Regions from separate parts of the Homo sapiens genome. Here region 1 is linked to region 2. The links come from fine-mapping of genetic effects on gene expression. Tissue or cell type: cerebral cortex. Region 2 holds a variant in brackets; the other region holds the start of a gene. All regions are shown on one strand. Distances are from middle to middle.

Region 1 (8,000 bases), 170 kb before region 2:
AAACACAGCTCTCTGTTCTAAATTGTTCTTTAAAGTAGTGCTTTTCTTTCTCAATTTGAAAGTGCTTTTTAGCTCTACAGCAACTACTAAGTGATAAAAGGATAAAGAAAACCTTTAATCCATATTAATTCGATAAAAAAGTCACTATCATGTGAGATATTCCACTTAAAAGGCAAAACACTTAAAATACGGCCTTTCCTCCCATATAAAATTTAAACACAAAGAAATGTTTTAACACTGAATGTAATTTAAACCAGGCAATTCAGTTTGGAGGCTTGATACTCTCTATGTAGTTTCTACTGATGTGAGGAATTTTAAAAAGATGATTTATGTTAATTCTTTATCAGAACAGAGGGGGGACTGTACATTTTCTATGAGCTGTTGATAACTGATGCATGTAGTAAAATACCATATGTGTTCTAAACTCTCCATCTTTTTGTTTAGTCCAATCAAGGACTATATAGTTACTTAAATGGTTTGGTTTGTATGAGTATAAGAAATACTTTAAATTAAAAGTAGTCAGTGATCAAAGTTCATAACTGTAATAAATAACAGCTGGCCATACCTTGTAACCCTCCCATTCCAAAGAGGTTTAGACCTGTATCTTTCACAGGCAAGTCTCCTGCAGTCTCATCAGTTGGACCAGACATGGCCTAGCTGTGGAAAAAAGAAAATTCAAATAAACTCTTTCCAAATTATTACATTAACTATGCAATGGAATGAACCAAATAAAACGAAAAAGGGACTAGAACTTTAATGGGCATCTTATTGTCCACATGTGCTGCTTGGAGAAGATGAAAGCTTCTATTCTAATAGTACTACTACATTCAGTCATGGAGACAGTGTTCCTTTCAACAGTGTATTTCCTATAGTTTGCTTAGGAAATGAAGTAAGATTATCATTTAAGAAATACCTCCTCTCCATCCCTTTCCTCTCCCCAGCCTCCAAAAGAAAGCAGATATCTTGGAAAAAACTCAGGTCAGGAACTTGATTCAAATGGTTGCTCTATCATTAACAAACTAGTCAAGCCACCTAAACTCTCTGAGTTTCAGTCTCTCAGTTTTAAAAATGGAGAAAATAATACCTATCTCAGAGAGTTATTCTAAGGGTAAATGGGATGAGTAAATTAAAAGCACTGATCACATGTGCCTGGGATGTCAATATTACTCAAATATTGTCTGCTTGATGTACAAATGAGTGGGCAGTTCTGTGCATTTTGTGAGTTTTGTGAAAGAGGTTTCGTTGCATAAATTTACCAACTGGGTTTGTGTTTTTTTGTGTGTGTGTCTTGCCTTTGTTGCCATGAGGCCTAGGTCTCACCCAGGGTTCAACTACTTCAACATATAGGCTCTCTAGCTAATTCTAGTATTTTTGTAGTTTCTATTCTTTACAGAAATACACCATAGTAACTCTATTTTGAGTATGGATGTGAGTGGTCCACACAATATCTAGTATGCAAAAATAAAGGATTTTATATTTTCATTTCAATCTACCTAGTAAGCTACATGCAAACTGTGAATGAAGATACTCTAAAGGGCAGAGTTCTTAAGCTCTAGGATATTGGTTCTAGAATGTAAAGACCAAGACAGTAGCAAGCTTCATTGTCTTGTTCAGCTCTGTATTCTTGGAGGCTAGCATAGAGCGTGGTGCATTCTGAGAGCAGGCATTCATTAAATAGTTGTTGAGTGAGTGAATGGAGTCCATGGGGTTTCAGGGTCTGTGAACCCAGAGATGGTTTACCAAATTTTGTATGTATATGTATATATGCAATATCTTTTAAAGAGGGTTCATAACTTTTATTACAACTCGCAAATGGTGGAGAACCATTGCATTTTGCTTTTACAGAAACAGCTAACAGACAAATCCTTGGGAGATCATCTACTTCTTTTGGAAGTACTCCTATAGAAAAGGTCAATTTTTAGGATCCTGTTGACACATAGGCCCGTGTATGAAAATGATTAGTTTTCCATGACAGAGTTAAGGTCACTTTAAAAATAATAATGATGATGATGATGATGATGGTGTTAACATTCATTGAACGCTTACTATGTGCCAGGTACTGTTCTAAGTGTTCTGTTATAGGAATGAAGTGTCTCACCATATCCTTGTGAGGCTGTTACTCAAATGATTCCTGCTTTACAAATGAGGAAGCTGAGACACAGATTAGTTAACTCACTTAAGGTGGTAGTTGAAAGTATTAATAGTTGTGTCTGGTGATATTTTTGGTTGTCACAACAAGGAAGCGGGATGCTACTGGCATCTAGTGAGTAGAGGCCATGGATGATGCTAAATATCTTACAGTGCTTAGGAGACATAATAATGAATTATCCAGCCCAAAATGTTAATAATAGTGTAGAAGCTGAAAAACCCTGCACAATGCTGCAATGCCTCTCCAACACCATCTTATGTTATCCTTCTTTGCTCACTATGCTTCACTTACATTATTCTTTACTTTCCTCGAACCCCCCATACCCTTGTCTTGCTCAAGGCCTTTGTATTAGCTGGTTCCTTAATCTTTGGAGCTCAGTTCACTTCCTCAGACAGGTTTTCCCTGACCATCCTATGTTAGAGTAGTCTTCCTTACATTTCTTCACTGTTTATTTCTTTTCTTTTCTTTTTTTTTTTTTTGAGACAGGGTCTTGCTATGTTGCCCGGGCTGGCCTTGAATTCATGGGTTCAAGTGATCCTCCCACCTCAGCCTCCCGAGTAGCTGGAACTACATGTGCGTGCCACCAAGCATGGCTTGTATCTCTTATAGCAACTGCCTCTATCTGAAGTTATCAGATAAAATTATTGTTTGTCTCCACTAAAAAAGGATAAACATCTTGAGACGGGTATTAGTCTTGTTCACAACTGTTCAGGAACAGTGCCTGGTACAGGGTGGGAACCAACATTAATATTTATTGAATGATTGGCTGTGCGTGGTGGCTCACACCTGTAATCCCAGCACTTTGCGAGGCCGAGACGGGCGGCTGACTTCAGGCCAGGAGTTCGAGACCAGCCTGGCCAACATGATGAAACCCTGTCTCTACTAAAAATACAAAAATTAGCTGGGTGTGGTGGCACACGCCTGTAATCCCAGCTACTCGGGAGGCTGAGGCAGAAGAATCGCTTGAACCTGGGAGGAGGAGTTTGCAGTAAGCTGAGGTCTTACCACTGCACTCCAGCCTGGGCAACGGAGCAAGAACCTGTCACACACACAAAAAAAAGAATAAAGAAAAAATATTTATTGAATGAATAAATGAATATCAGGTACTGAGATTAAAATGGCAAGCAAAACCCCCGCCTTTATGAAGCTAGCAAGTTATGGAGGTAATCACATGATAAACAAATAATATATAATTAAGCAAACAATAGACCACTCAGGAGGTTTAGGGTCTACCAACCAACTCCTAATCCAGGGCAAATGAGCAAACTGTGTTAGGGACCTACAACTTGCAGGATCTGGATAGAGATGGCAATTAGCAGCATCAACTCTCACCTTCATGGCTGGGATATAACATTTCAAATTGGTCCTGGACGTGGGGATAAAGGGCGGCCTGTGATTCAGGCCTGAGGATGTGGAGGTGTCTTGGGCTGGGCTGCTTTCACGCCAGCAGAACTCCAGGGCCAACTCCAGGGCCTTCTCCAGGCGGCAGAGCGGACCCTAGGACCCCGGCCCGCGCTGCAGTGGGGAGGGTCAGCAACCTCCACCCACCCTCATCCTCCCCCATCCTCCCGGGTACTCACCGTGCCACTGGCCCTGCAGCTAGCTACCGTTGCTATAGCGCCGACAGCGTGGCGGGCGGCTGGCCGAGAGGAGCACGGGAGAAACATGGCAGGCTCCCGTAGCCTCCTGGGAAATGTAGTTCTCCTTGGACTCTAGCCTGTTTGCTCGCGGGGTAGCGGACTACGCTCTTCCAGCTGTCGGACCTGGGAAATTCTCCTGTGCTAAATCCCGTGGCGCTCGCGGGTGTCGCCGCGGTGCATCCTGGGAGTTGTAGTTTTTTCTACTCAGAGGGAGAATAGCTCCAGACGGGAGCAGGACGCTGAGAGAACTACATGCAGGAGGCGGGGTCCAGGGCGAGGGATCTACGCAGCTTGCGGTGGCGAAGGCGGCTTTAGTGGCAGCATGAAGCGCACCCCGACTGCCGAGGAACGAGAGCGCGAAGCTAAGGTATGTCGGGCTCCCGGGGCCTGGAGATCTTCGTGCGCTGTGAGCAAGGATCAGGGAACCGGAAGGGCTTGGTTTGATGGCGAGCGGATGCGCGGTGTTAAACTAAGGGATGACAGGGCCTTGTCAGCAAGGGACCTGGAGATATTAGAGGGGATGTTACAAATTCGTGCTCTTCAGGATGCAGGCCGAGTCTTGTTGGATCGGCTCAAAAATGAGAAGCAAGATACCCATTTCCTTGTCCTTCTTCTGCATCTATTCCTTGGTTAAATTTGTCGCCATCCCTGTGCCTCAGTTTACCGGATTCTCAGATGACTGTGATCATACCAGCTGTGCTTTCTCATAATGGTCTCTGAGGACTGAGATCGGCTTAGATGAAATATCTGTGCAGTCAGCTGTGTTTCTTTGGAACAATTGTCTCCGTGACCGGCTGATAACAGTTTGTGTCTTTTAGCGCTGTGGATATGAATCTTTAACTACATTGCTCCTCTCTACCTTTGATGTTCAGCTTCTGGTAGTTGCCATTCCATGGGATGACCATAATAATGGCAACAGAGATTTTAAAAAGCATTTATTGTGGGTCAGGCACTGTATTAAGTGCATAATATTTAAATTATTTCATATCATTGTCACAGCAGATTGCAAGATAGATATTATACAGATGGAGTATAAATAACAGCCCAGCTTCACAGATGAAGAACTGAGGCTCAGAAGCATTGAGTGTTTTCCTTTCTCTCATTCCCAAACTCAGATCCTGTTGATTTGTCTACGTATATTGGGAATATGCCCACTTTTTTTTTTTTTCATCTCCACTACCTTGGACCAAGCTACCATTATCTTTTTAATAGACTGTTGGAATAGCCTATTGATTGGCCTACACTCACTCTACACCCTAACTTAACTCTTCTTCCACCTTCTCTCCCTTCCCTCAACTACCATTCTCTTCTGCACACCATAGAGTAAGATCTTCGTGAAATGCAAATATAATTATGTCCCTTTCCTTTCTCCTTACTCTGCCAACCACCTGTTTAAAAATATTCCATGGCTTTCTGTTGCTCTTAGGATAAAGGCAAAACTTCACATTGCCTACAAGATCCTGCATGATCTGGACCCTACCTGCTTTCACAACCCCATTGGATATGACACTCTGCTCTCTGCCTACCAGTCACTTTGGCCTTCTTAAAAGTCACTCTTCACTATACTTTATCGGGCTTCAGGGCCTTTGCACATGTCATTTGCTGCCTACTCTATGTTAGGCAAATATTGGCAGTGAATAACAGTGTTAAATAACGTAGACACAGTTCTTGCTTTCATAGAATTTCATCTTACACGTGAGTCTGTTTAGGGCAATACACCTAAGGATTTAAAATATAAAATCTGCTCTATATTGACCTGAGTTATTGCAGTATTTCGTAAGGGACCAGAAGTTTTCATGCTTGAGTCTGCATATGATGTGGATAATATATTAAAGATAAGCACAAAGAGGGCGACCCTTCTGCTTTAGTCTACACAGTGCAAAGAAACAAATGTCACCTCATGGTGTTGTGCATGATGTCTTTCTCATCTTTCAGGTTTATTTTTAAAGTATTTCATTTATTCTGTGAAGATTTGTTGAGCACCTATTATTTGCCATAAGTTGGGATTATAATTTTGGCTGAAATAGAATCACTGCACCAAAGAAGCTCTTACTCTATTGAAACCATAACCATTGCCTGTGAGGGAGTTACTAGTGTCATCCATATTTTAGAGATTTAGAAACTGAGACTTGTAGGTAAATCGTGACTTGCCCAAGGCCACTTGGTTGCTAGGTGAAACTAGTGCTCTGAGCCAGGTCTTCTGACTCCAAATTCAAGGCTTTTCCCATTTTCTGCTTGTGAAACATGTTGAATTAGTAGAGCAAATTGTCTTCCTTTTTTCTTTAAAAAATTGGCTGTTCATTTAAAATTTGTTTGCTTAATATTATTTGTTAGAACAAAGTATAAGTAGTTGTTTTAAATCTTAAATGTAAAGTGTCCAATGGCTCATGAATTATCTTCTCTTTTTCTAATCAATTTTATTGAGGTATAATTTACATACAGTCATTTGCAACCATTTTTGTGTACAATTTGATGCCTTTTGACAAATGTATATACCTGCAAAACCACCACAGTTGGCATAGCGAACATTTCTCTCCTAAGTTCCCTCTCGTTAATTTGTGGTTAGTCTGTCCCTCCACCTTGGCCCCCAAACAACCACTGATATGTTTTTTGTCTCTGTAGATGCATCTGTATTTTCTAGATTTCATATAAATGGAAGCATACAGTGTATACTTTTGGGTCTTTTTTTCATTCAGCGTAATGATTTTTTTTTCAAAATAGAGATGGTGTCTTGCTGTGTTGCCCAAGTTGGTCTGGAACTCCTGGGCTGAAGCCGTCCTCCTGCCTCTGCTACCCAAAGTACTGGGATTATAGGCGTGAGCCACTGTGCCTGGCCAGCATAATGGTTTTTGAGATTAATCCATGTTGTTGTATGTATCCATAATTTGTTCCTTTTTATCGCAAATTAGTGGCCCACTGTATGGAGATACCACATGTTGTTTATTCATTCACTTGTTGCTGGACATTAGGATTGTTTCTGGTTTTGGACTCTTATGAAAAAAGCTGTTTTTACCATTCATGTATGAGTCTTTCCATTTTCATTTCTGTCAAAAAAAGCTGCTATGACCATTCACCTAAGAGTCTTTACATTTTTATTTCTGTCGGGTAATGCCCAGGAGTAGAATTGCTTAGTTATAGGGGAGTTCTTTGTTTAACCTTATGAAGAAATTACCAGTTTTCCGAAGTGATTTGACCATTTGTTTTAGTTTCTTATGGCTGCTGCAACAAGTTACCACAAACTTGGTGGCTTAAAACAACAGAAATTTATTATCTTACAGTTCTGGAGATGAGGCATTGAAATCAAGGCATCAATAGGGCCATACTCCCTTTGAAGGACTCTAGGGGAAACTCCTTCCTTGCCTCTTCCAGCTTCTAGTGTCCCTGGTGTTCCTTGGCTTGTGGTAGCATCACTTCATAACTTCTCTGCTTCCATCTTCACATGGCCTTCTCTCTGTTTCTGTGTCTCAAATCTCTCTCTCCTTTCTGTTAAAAGGATGCCAGTCATTGGATTAGGACCCGTCCTAAATCCAGGATGATCCTGAGATCCTTAAGAGCCTCAACTTAATTACATTTGCAAGGACACTTTTTCCAAATAAGGTTACATTCACACGTGCCGGGTTTTTGGATTCGGACATATCTTTTTGGGGAACAATATTCAAATGCACTGCACCCTTTTACATTCCTACCAACTGTTAGTAGGAATGTAAAATGAGAGTTCTACTTGTTTCATATCTTTTCATCGCTTGTCAGTCTTTTACATTTTAACCATTCTAGTAGGTGTGCAGTGATATTTGATTTTAATTTGCATTTCAGTGATGACTAATGAGGTTGCATATCTCTCTTTTTGTAAATCTTTATTGAGTGAGGTATAATTTACATACCATAAAATTCACCTGTTTTCAGTGTAGGACTCAATGGTTGGTAGCATATTTGCAGAGTCGTGTAACTGTCACCACCGTCTTATTTTAGAACAGTTCCATTCCAGAAGAAACTTTGTATTCATTTGCAGTTATTTCTCAATTCTACTTCCTCCCTAGGGAACCACGAATCTACTCTGTTCTTTAGATTTGCCTTTTCTGGACATTTTTATATAGATGGACTCATACAATATGTGGTCTTCTTTCACCCAGGATGTTTTTGAGGTTCATCCATGTTGTAGCATATATTGGTACTTTGTTCCTTTTTATTACACAGTGGATAGAATTCCAGTG
Region 2 (8,000 bases):
TTTGGATCTTCACTGTGAGAACCTGTTAGAGCTTTTGGAGATAAAACTCACAAAAGTGTGGGAGTTCCCTAAGATGGAGCTCCCCTGGACTTTTTAACTCTCAGTCCCGTCTACGTTGAATCTCCAGCAATTCAGTAGTTACAGTTACGGTTTTTCTATCCTGGAACTGGTTCCCATGTGTGTTTCTGCTTCTTGTTTTTTACTCTGATAAATTGTCATCTCTGTTTCCAGTGTGTCTCTCTCTCCAGAGTGAGGAATGACAAAATTACATCTCATTGAAAGCCACTGCTCTTGGTTTTATAATATCTTTACATCTTTGATTTACCACAATGTAACTTTGAATGTTGTACCACTTTTCCTTCCATCCTCTTTTGTGCTTTTTCATGTGTTTTACGTCTGCATATGTTATAAACCTCAGAATACATTGTTATTATTTTGGATTTAAAAAGGCATTTATTCTTTCATGATATTTGTTACTTATGTTACTTTTTATTCCTTTGAGCAGATCTAAATTCCTTCTGACATTATTTTTCTTTTGCCTGTAGAATTTCATAACTATTCTTATAGTGTAAATCTACTGAATATAAATTGTTTCATTTTCTTTCTGAAAAGTCTTTATTTCACTTTTATTTTGGAAAGGGTGTTCACTATGTATAGAATAGTAGATTGACAGTTTTTTCCTTTAGTATTTTGTCACCAGTTGTCTTCTGAGTTTTATAACTTCTGATGAGAAGTCTGCTGTCATTCTAATCTTTGTCCCTCTGTATTTAATGTCTCTTTTTCTGACTGCCTTTAACCTTTCCACTTTATTACTGATTTTAAGACATTTCATTATGACATGCTTTAGTTTAGTCTTATATCTTTTTTTGCTTAGAATTCGTTGAGCTTATTGGATCTCTGGGTTTATAGTTTTCATGAAATTTGGTGAATTTTGGCCATTGTTTCTATAAAAATGTGTGTGTTTTTGTCACTCTTTCTTCCCTAGAATTCAAATTAAATTTTCATTAAATGGCTTAATATTGTCCTGGCTGTCACTCATGCCCTTTCATATTTTTGTAGTCTTTTTTGTTTAGCCACTTTATTTTGCATAGTTTTTATTTTTCATGTGTTCTAGTTCACTGATCTTTTCTTCTGCAGTTTGTAAATTGCTGTTCATCTCACTTAGTGTGAGTTTTGTTTCAGATACTGCATGTTTAACCTTTAGAAGCTTCACTTATATATATATATGAAAGGGCAGATATGTACATTTAGAAGAAAAGAGAGATGTGACTACCTCGCATATTTTGTGTGTGTGTATGTATCTTTCATTTCTCTGTTACTTTTTGAATGGATGTTGGGTATTGCACATCGTATTTGTTGGGTGCCTGATTTTGTTATATACTTTTACATACTTTTGGCTTTTGCTCTAATGAATAATTAAATTACTAAGAAGTTGGATCCTTTTTTTTTTTAAATTTTGAGATGGAGTTTCACTCTCGTTTCCCAGGCTGCAGTGCAATGGCGCAATCTCGGCTCACTGCAACCTCTGCCTCCTGTGTTCAAGCAATTCTCCTGCCTCAGCCTCCTGAGTAGCTGGGATTACAAGCACCTGCCACCATGCCCAGCGAATTTTTGTATTTTTAGTAGAGACAGGGTTTCACCATGTTGGCCAGGCTGGTCTCGAACTCCTGACCTCAGGTAATCCACCCACTTCGGCCTCCCAAAGTACTGAGATTCCAGGCATGAGCCACTGTGCCTGGCCAGAAGTTGGATCCTTTTGAGGCTTAGTTTTAAGCCTTGCTAGGTGGGACTAGAGCAGCCTTTAACCTAGGACTCATTTAGCCCTACTTCTGCAGTGATGCTTTCCTAAGGATTTTCTAGTATCTCATGTAGTGGGAGCCATTTTGGCTGCTGGGATCATAGAATACTCCTGGCTGTGTGTGAAATCTGAAATTGGTTCCACCTGCTGCATTCTGGTGCTTCTTTTTTTGGCCCTTGGGAAATTTTTATTCATACATGCACAGGTCAGTGCTCTTCCAAATACTTGAGGGAACCTTCCTGCAGTCTGTTTGCTGTCTCTCTGTATAGCTGTTTCTGTTCCAGCATTCTGCCTTTCGAGGCCCTGTGGCCTTGGCCTCCCTATACTCCAGTCTTTGTCTTCTCAACTTGGCAAGAAAGAAACAGAGACTCTGGGTTTTGACTTCCTCTTCTCTATTCTGTGGCATTGAAACTGTTTCCATGGAGTAAGTTAGGGCAATTGTAGGCATCTCTCACCTATTTTGTTTCTCTTCTCCATGGGATTATATCTTGCTGAAACCTTTGATTCATATTTTTGGCTTGTTTTGTAGTTGTTTAAGACAGAAGGGTAAATCTTGTCACTGTTACTTCACAATATTCATAAGCAGAAATCCTGTCTTAATATCTTGCATTTCTTTTCTATGTTTAGAGATGATATTGTAGGTTGTTTTTGCTGATACATAAGGGGCCTGGTGGCATTTGCCTCTTGGTTTAAGTCATTATCTTTTTTGGTATCTTGATAAAAATCTTGTGTTGCCTGTATAGGATGCCATTGCTGGAAACATTACAACTCTCTTTTTTTGTAATAGAGGAAGTCATGTCCTGAGCAGAGGTTGTATAGATTTTGCCTGACTTGTGGTATCATTTCTTAGGATATATAACAACTTGGTCATTGGTTTTTCTCCCACTGCTTGTGGTTTTAGGAATATTCTTCAACTGATGAATTCACCACCTACTTCATTCTTGGGTTGTGAATCCCTACACTTGAGTTCTGTTCTAAGAGCCAAACATGCAACATGCTGAGTTGGTTGGTTTATTGCCTGGAAAATTGTTAGGGCAAAATTGATACTTTGATTATGGAGGGAAAGAGGCAGATTTTTCAGATGAAAGGTGTGCAACTCCAAATTCTGGTTTATTCTAAAGATAAGGGTAGAAGTAGATGTGTCATGAGAAAGTGAAAGAAGCTCAATTCATATATAGTGAATTTTATAGTGGGTGGGCATAATAGGACCACAAATAAGTAGAGTGACCCTATATCTCATTTGCTGAGGACAGTCCTGGTTTATACTTGTTGTTCTGGAATAATTGTTAATAGCATCCCCTTTCACTCTTCAAAGTGTCATACTTTGTATGATAGAATATATACATATTTAGTTATATACATATGATTATATATATCTACTTATATATACTTGCATATGTATAAGTATATATAAGTATATCATATTTATTGTATACTTATATTTATATTATTATACTTGTTATGTATCTACATATATATAATGTCTACTTATAAGTAGATACGCATATAATGGAATATATATATATGTAGTCACCTACTTATAAGGGATTGATTAAAGAATACAAGGTAAGTATTGATTCCTTGGTTATTGTTATTTCTTGGAAGATAGATTTACTGTTTACTTTGTGTTTTAGTTAAATAATATATAGTATATACTGACTAATAAATATGGTTTTATACATTTCTGGTGTTTTTCCTGTAGATGATCTCAATGCCACCCACCAACACTGTGTTTTGGCCGGTTCACAACCTCGGTTTAGTTCCACCCACCGAGTGGCAGAGGTAAGTGTAAATAAAAATGTGATTCACACCTAATTGGATGTGACAGAAGTGGTTGAATGAGCAATTTACTATAGAGCTTTGGAAGAGTATTTGATGGGAAAATTGCTTCCATCTAACTTGACTTTCGTCTCTGTTTACTTGCTTTTTGAGCTTTGGATTGTGTTGGATACAGTTTTAGAAAGCATATTCATGCCATGGGATAAGTGTGTTTTGCTTCTTGGGGTTATGTTTCTTGGAGAAGGAAAATGCCGTTGACAAGTGTTTATAGTTAGAGGTTTATTTAGAGGGTTGTATCTGTCAAGGTCAAGGGCAGGAGATGACCAGAAGAATTGGGGCAGATTTTTATGCTTGTGCATGTGTTAGCTGTGGCTGGGTTCAGATGTTGAGAATTTTCATTTCCCTTAACTTTTTGGTCAGACTTCTGGGCATGTGAATGTAAAGAGAAAGTTACAGGGTTGCCAAGGAGTTTCTGAGCTCCACAGTTGTGTTCATAACCCAGACTTTATTGCTAAATTCTGCCACCACTTGCAATGGCCCATGGTTAGCTGTTCAGACTAGTTCAGAATGGAAAACTAAGAAATGAGAAAAACTCATATTAGTCATGTTGGGGTCCCATGTACTCAGTTAAGAGGGGTTCCAGAGAGCAAGGCATGAAAGGGATTACAAGTGACCTTCTACCTAAGCTTGCTATCCATGCTTTGCTTTA[T/C]AGCTTGACCTTTCATGGAACTACAGGGGACAAGTGTGAGAAAATTGGGCGGAAGTGGTACAACAAAGTGAGAGGTACAGGTGCAAGGTCTTCCAGTGGCAGTACTGCGTGAGTCTATACGGCAGTGTTGTGTCTTTTGGTCATTAAGTAGCTTTACCAGTGGAACGATCATATTGCTGTGTGGCAGAGAGAGAATGAATGAGTATTTAAACCAAGATGCCAGCAAGCCCATCCAGCACCTCTTTCTTCCTTTCTCCCCTTTCTTCTCTTTTCCATTCACTCATTCATTTAAATATTTGAGTGCCTGTTATGTGTCCAAAACTGTAGGCCTGGGAGATAGAGCCGTCAACATGCCCATGATGCCCACCACTTTTGTGAACTTTAGTTGGGGGGGACAAATTTTAAACAAATAAACACAGAAATAATTGTCTTAGAGACCTAAAGGGAGTTCTGTTAGAAAAGAGGGAAGCGAGGGAGGAAGGTAGGTAAGGACGAACAGAGGAAGAAAAGAAGGGAGGGAGGGAGGAAGGAAGAGAGGGAGGGAGGAAGGGAGGAGCAAGTATTTATAGAGCATCTAATATGTGCCTTGTATTATACACAAGGATTTCATTTCCCCAGTTATAGGCATCTGTCTTTCTAGCTATAACCCTCCTAAGAATCCCTTTCTTGTGGATCACTTGAGTATATGGCTACTTAAGTGCGCCCTTCTACGTCTTTCCTAATCTAATCCAGAAGAGTGGACAGTCTCATTAGTGCTGGGTTCAAAGGGCTGTACAAAATGATAAATAAAAAGCTTGGGAAATATGTTCATGGGGATAAGAATCGTACCTAATCGTAGTGTTCTTATGAGGATTAAATTAGTTAATACATGTAAGTCTTTTTAGAACAGTGACTGGTATACATTCAAAGAAGTTTGCCACTACTATTATTAAATTACTTCTACTGCTACTACTGTCTTTTCATTTTATTCTGTTGAAAAACTAATAGGAGATGGGAACAACTAAAGTTCACTGTGTGGAAGGTTATTCTGTCTTCATTTGTACACTACAGTGTACATAATAAAGCAAGAGAGATTAAATCATCAGCAAGTTTTGATTGTAGGAACTACTATTCAGAAGGGATTTCAGTTTGTTCTCTCTTCAAACTTTTATTGAACTTTATAGTGTTCAAGGTATTCTTGTAGGGACTTGTGAACAGGAATGGTTATATTCAGTGTCTTCAAGATGCTTATGGTCTAAAGAGTATGTACAGTGCAGAATAGAATGTAGCAGATAGCCCGGCTAAATTTTGTATTTTTAATGGAGATGGGGCTTTGCCATATTGGCCAGGCTGGTCTTGAACTCCTGACCTCAGTCGATCCACCCACCTCGGCCTCCCAAAGTGCTGGGATTACAGGCGTGAGCCAATGCTCCCGGCCTAGATTTTAGTTTTTGATAATTGTGTCAGAATATTCTTGGGATTCAATACAGAATGTCTTTTTAAAGAAATTTACATTTTATGAATAATTATATTTTGAATAGGTAGTTAATGCAAATGGTTCAAAATTAAAAAAAATACCTAAAGGTATACAGTTAAAGTCTCTTTCTCCTCAGGCCAACCAGCCCCTCATTCCCAGAGGCAACCAATGTTTAAAGGTTCTTGTTACTCTTTTGGTGATATTTAATATATAAGTAAAAATGTATGTAATTTCAAAAATATTTTTAAATATAAATGGTAGCCTACTATATATATGGTTCTGTAGTTTTGTTTCAGTAAACTTTGGTAATAATTACTCATCAATATATAGCACTTAGCGAGGAGTAGGTAATGGCTTTTTAGATATGACATCAAAAGCATAAACAACTGAAGAAAAAAACAGATAAATTGGCCTTCATCAAAGTTAAAAACTTTTGTACTTCAAAGGGTACCATAAAGAAAGTGTAGAGGACCCATGGAATGGGAGAAAATATCTGCAAATCATATATCTCATAAAGCACTTGTGTCTCAAATATTCCAAGAATTCTTAGAACTCAATAATTCAAAAGAGAAATGATCCAATTTAAAATGGCAAAGGAATCGAATTAACATGTCACAGGCTGGGTGCAGTGGCTCATGCCTGTAATCCCAGCACTTTAGGAGGCCGAGGTGAGTGGATCACTTGAGGCCAGGAGTTCAAGACCAGCCTGGCCAACATGGTAAAACCCCGTCTTTACTAAAAATTCAAAAATTAGCCAGGTGTGGTGCCACATGCCTGTAATCCCAGCTATTCAGCAGGCTGAGGCAGGAGAATCGCTTAAACCTGGGAGGTGGAGGTTGCAGTGAGGCAAGATTGCACCACTGCACTCCAGCCTGAGCAATAGAGCAAGACTCCGTCTTCACACACACACAAAAAGAAGGTATACAAATGGCCAATAGACAAATGAAAAATGCTGAACGTCATTAGTCACTAGGGAAATACAAATCAAAACCACGACGGGATAACATTTCACACTCACTAGGATAGCTAGAATAAAAAAGACAGTGACAAGTGTTGGTGAGGACATGCAGGAAGTGGCACCCATGTGCACTGCCAGAGGGAATGGACAGTGGTGCAGCCACTTTGGGAAACAGTCTGGCACATCTTCAGAAGGTTAAATCCAAAGGTACCCTATGACACAGCAATTCCATGCCTAGGTAGTTTCCCAAGAGTGATGGAAACTTCTACAGGAATGTTCATAATCACCAAAAAGTGGAAACAACCCAAAGGTTCATCACTTAATGAATGGATAAATAAAACGTGGCATATCCATACAGTTGAATATTATTGGGCATTGAAATGGAATACAGTAATGATGCATGCTACAACATGAATAACTCTTGAAAACATACGAAATGGAAGCAACCAGTCACAAAAGATACATATTATATAATTCATTTATATGAAGTGTCTAGAATAGGTCTCTCTATGGACATAGAAAGTAGATTAGTGGTTGCCTAGGGTTGGAAATGTTGGTAGAAATCAGTTGGGGTTGGGGGTGACTGCCAAATGGCACAGGGTTTCTTTTTGGGGTGATGAAAATGCTCTAAAATTAATTGTAGTGATATTTGTATAACTCTGTGACTATACGAAACAACATTGCATTATATGCTTTAAATGCTTGAATTTTATGACGTGAATTATAGCTCAATAAAGCTGTTACCAAAAAAAAAAAACCTATCTCAAACTAGGCCTGATTATAGATTATTTACATAAAACAAAACACTATACATCCAGAAAAAAATTATTCCACATCCCACCCCTCTCTCTTTTTGTTTTCTGCAACCATACGTCATTAAACTAGTTTTCCTATTGTTAAGAAATTTAGGTTGTTTCTAATCTTGCATGAAAATGCAATTAATAACCTATGTAGCTCACTCCATACTTGGGAAAGTAAAGGTGCAAGTAGGGAAACTTTCTAGATAGAAGTCATTTTAAAAAGATGTTGTAGGCTGGGTGCAGTGGCTCATGCCTGTAATCCCAGCACTTTGGGAGGCTGAGGGGGGTGGATCACTTGAGGTCAGGAGTTCGAGACCAGCCTGTCCAATATGGTAAAACCAGTCTCTACTAAAAATACAAAAATTAGCTGGGCGTGGTGGTGCACATCTTTAATCCCAGCTACTTGGGAGGCTGAGGCAGGAGAATTGCTTGAGCCTAGGAGGCAGAGGTTGCGGTGAGCCAAGATCATGCCACGCCACTGTACTCTGGTCTGGGCCAGA

What was found. PIP is the estimated chance that this variant, and not a neighbour inherited with it, causes the effect.
Region 1: it holds the start of FTO, and the variant in region 2 is fine-mapped to the expression of FTO in cerebral cortex (GTEx, PIP above 0.99). The same link has a PIP of 0.9 or more in T cells, amygdala, anterior cingulate cortex, atrial appendage, blood mononuclear cells and caudate.

The regions. Positions count from the first base shown.
Region 1 is chr16:53,700,074-53,708,073 of GRCh38, forward strand. It overlaps FTO (FTO alpha-ketoglutarate dependent dioxygenase), which reads left to right and starts at 4,083. Exons shown (of 9, transcript NM_001080432.3): 1 at 4,083-4,156. The coding sequence starts at 4,112. RPGRIP1L (RPGRIP1 like) reads right to left here and starts at 3,786. Exons shown (of 27, transcript NM_015272.5): 1 at 3,730-3,786; 2 at 566-657. The coding sequence starts at 650. RefSeq lists a silencer at 3,696-3,745 and enhancers at 3,781-4,281, 3,896-4,305.
Region 2 is chr16:53,870,286-53,878,285 of GRCh38, forward strand. It overlaps FTO (FTO alpha-ketoglutarate dependent dioxygenase), which reads left to right. Exons shown (of 9, transcript NM_001080432.3): 5 at 3,501-3,580. Among named protein-coding and RNA genes, the nearest start is that of FTO-IT1, 170 kb to the right of the region's middle. The variant T/C (reference allele first, on the strand shown) is at 4,287.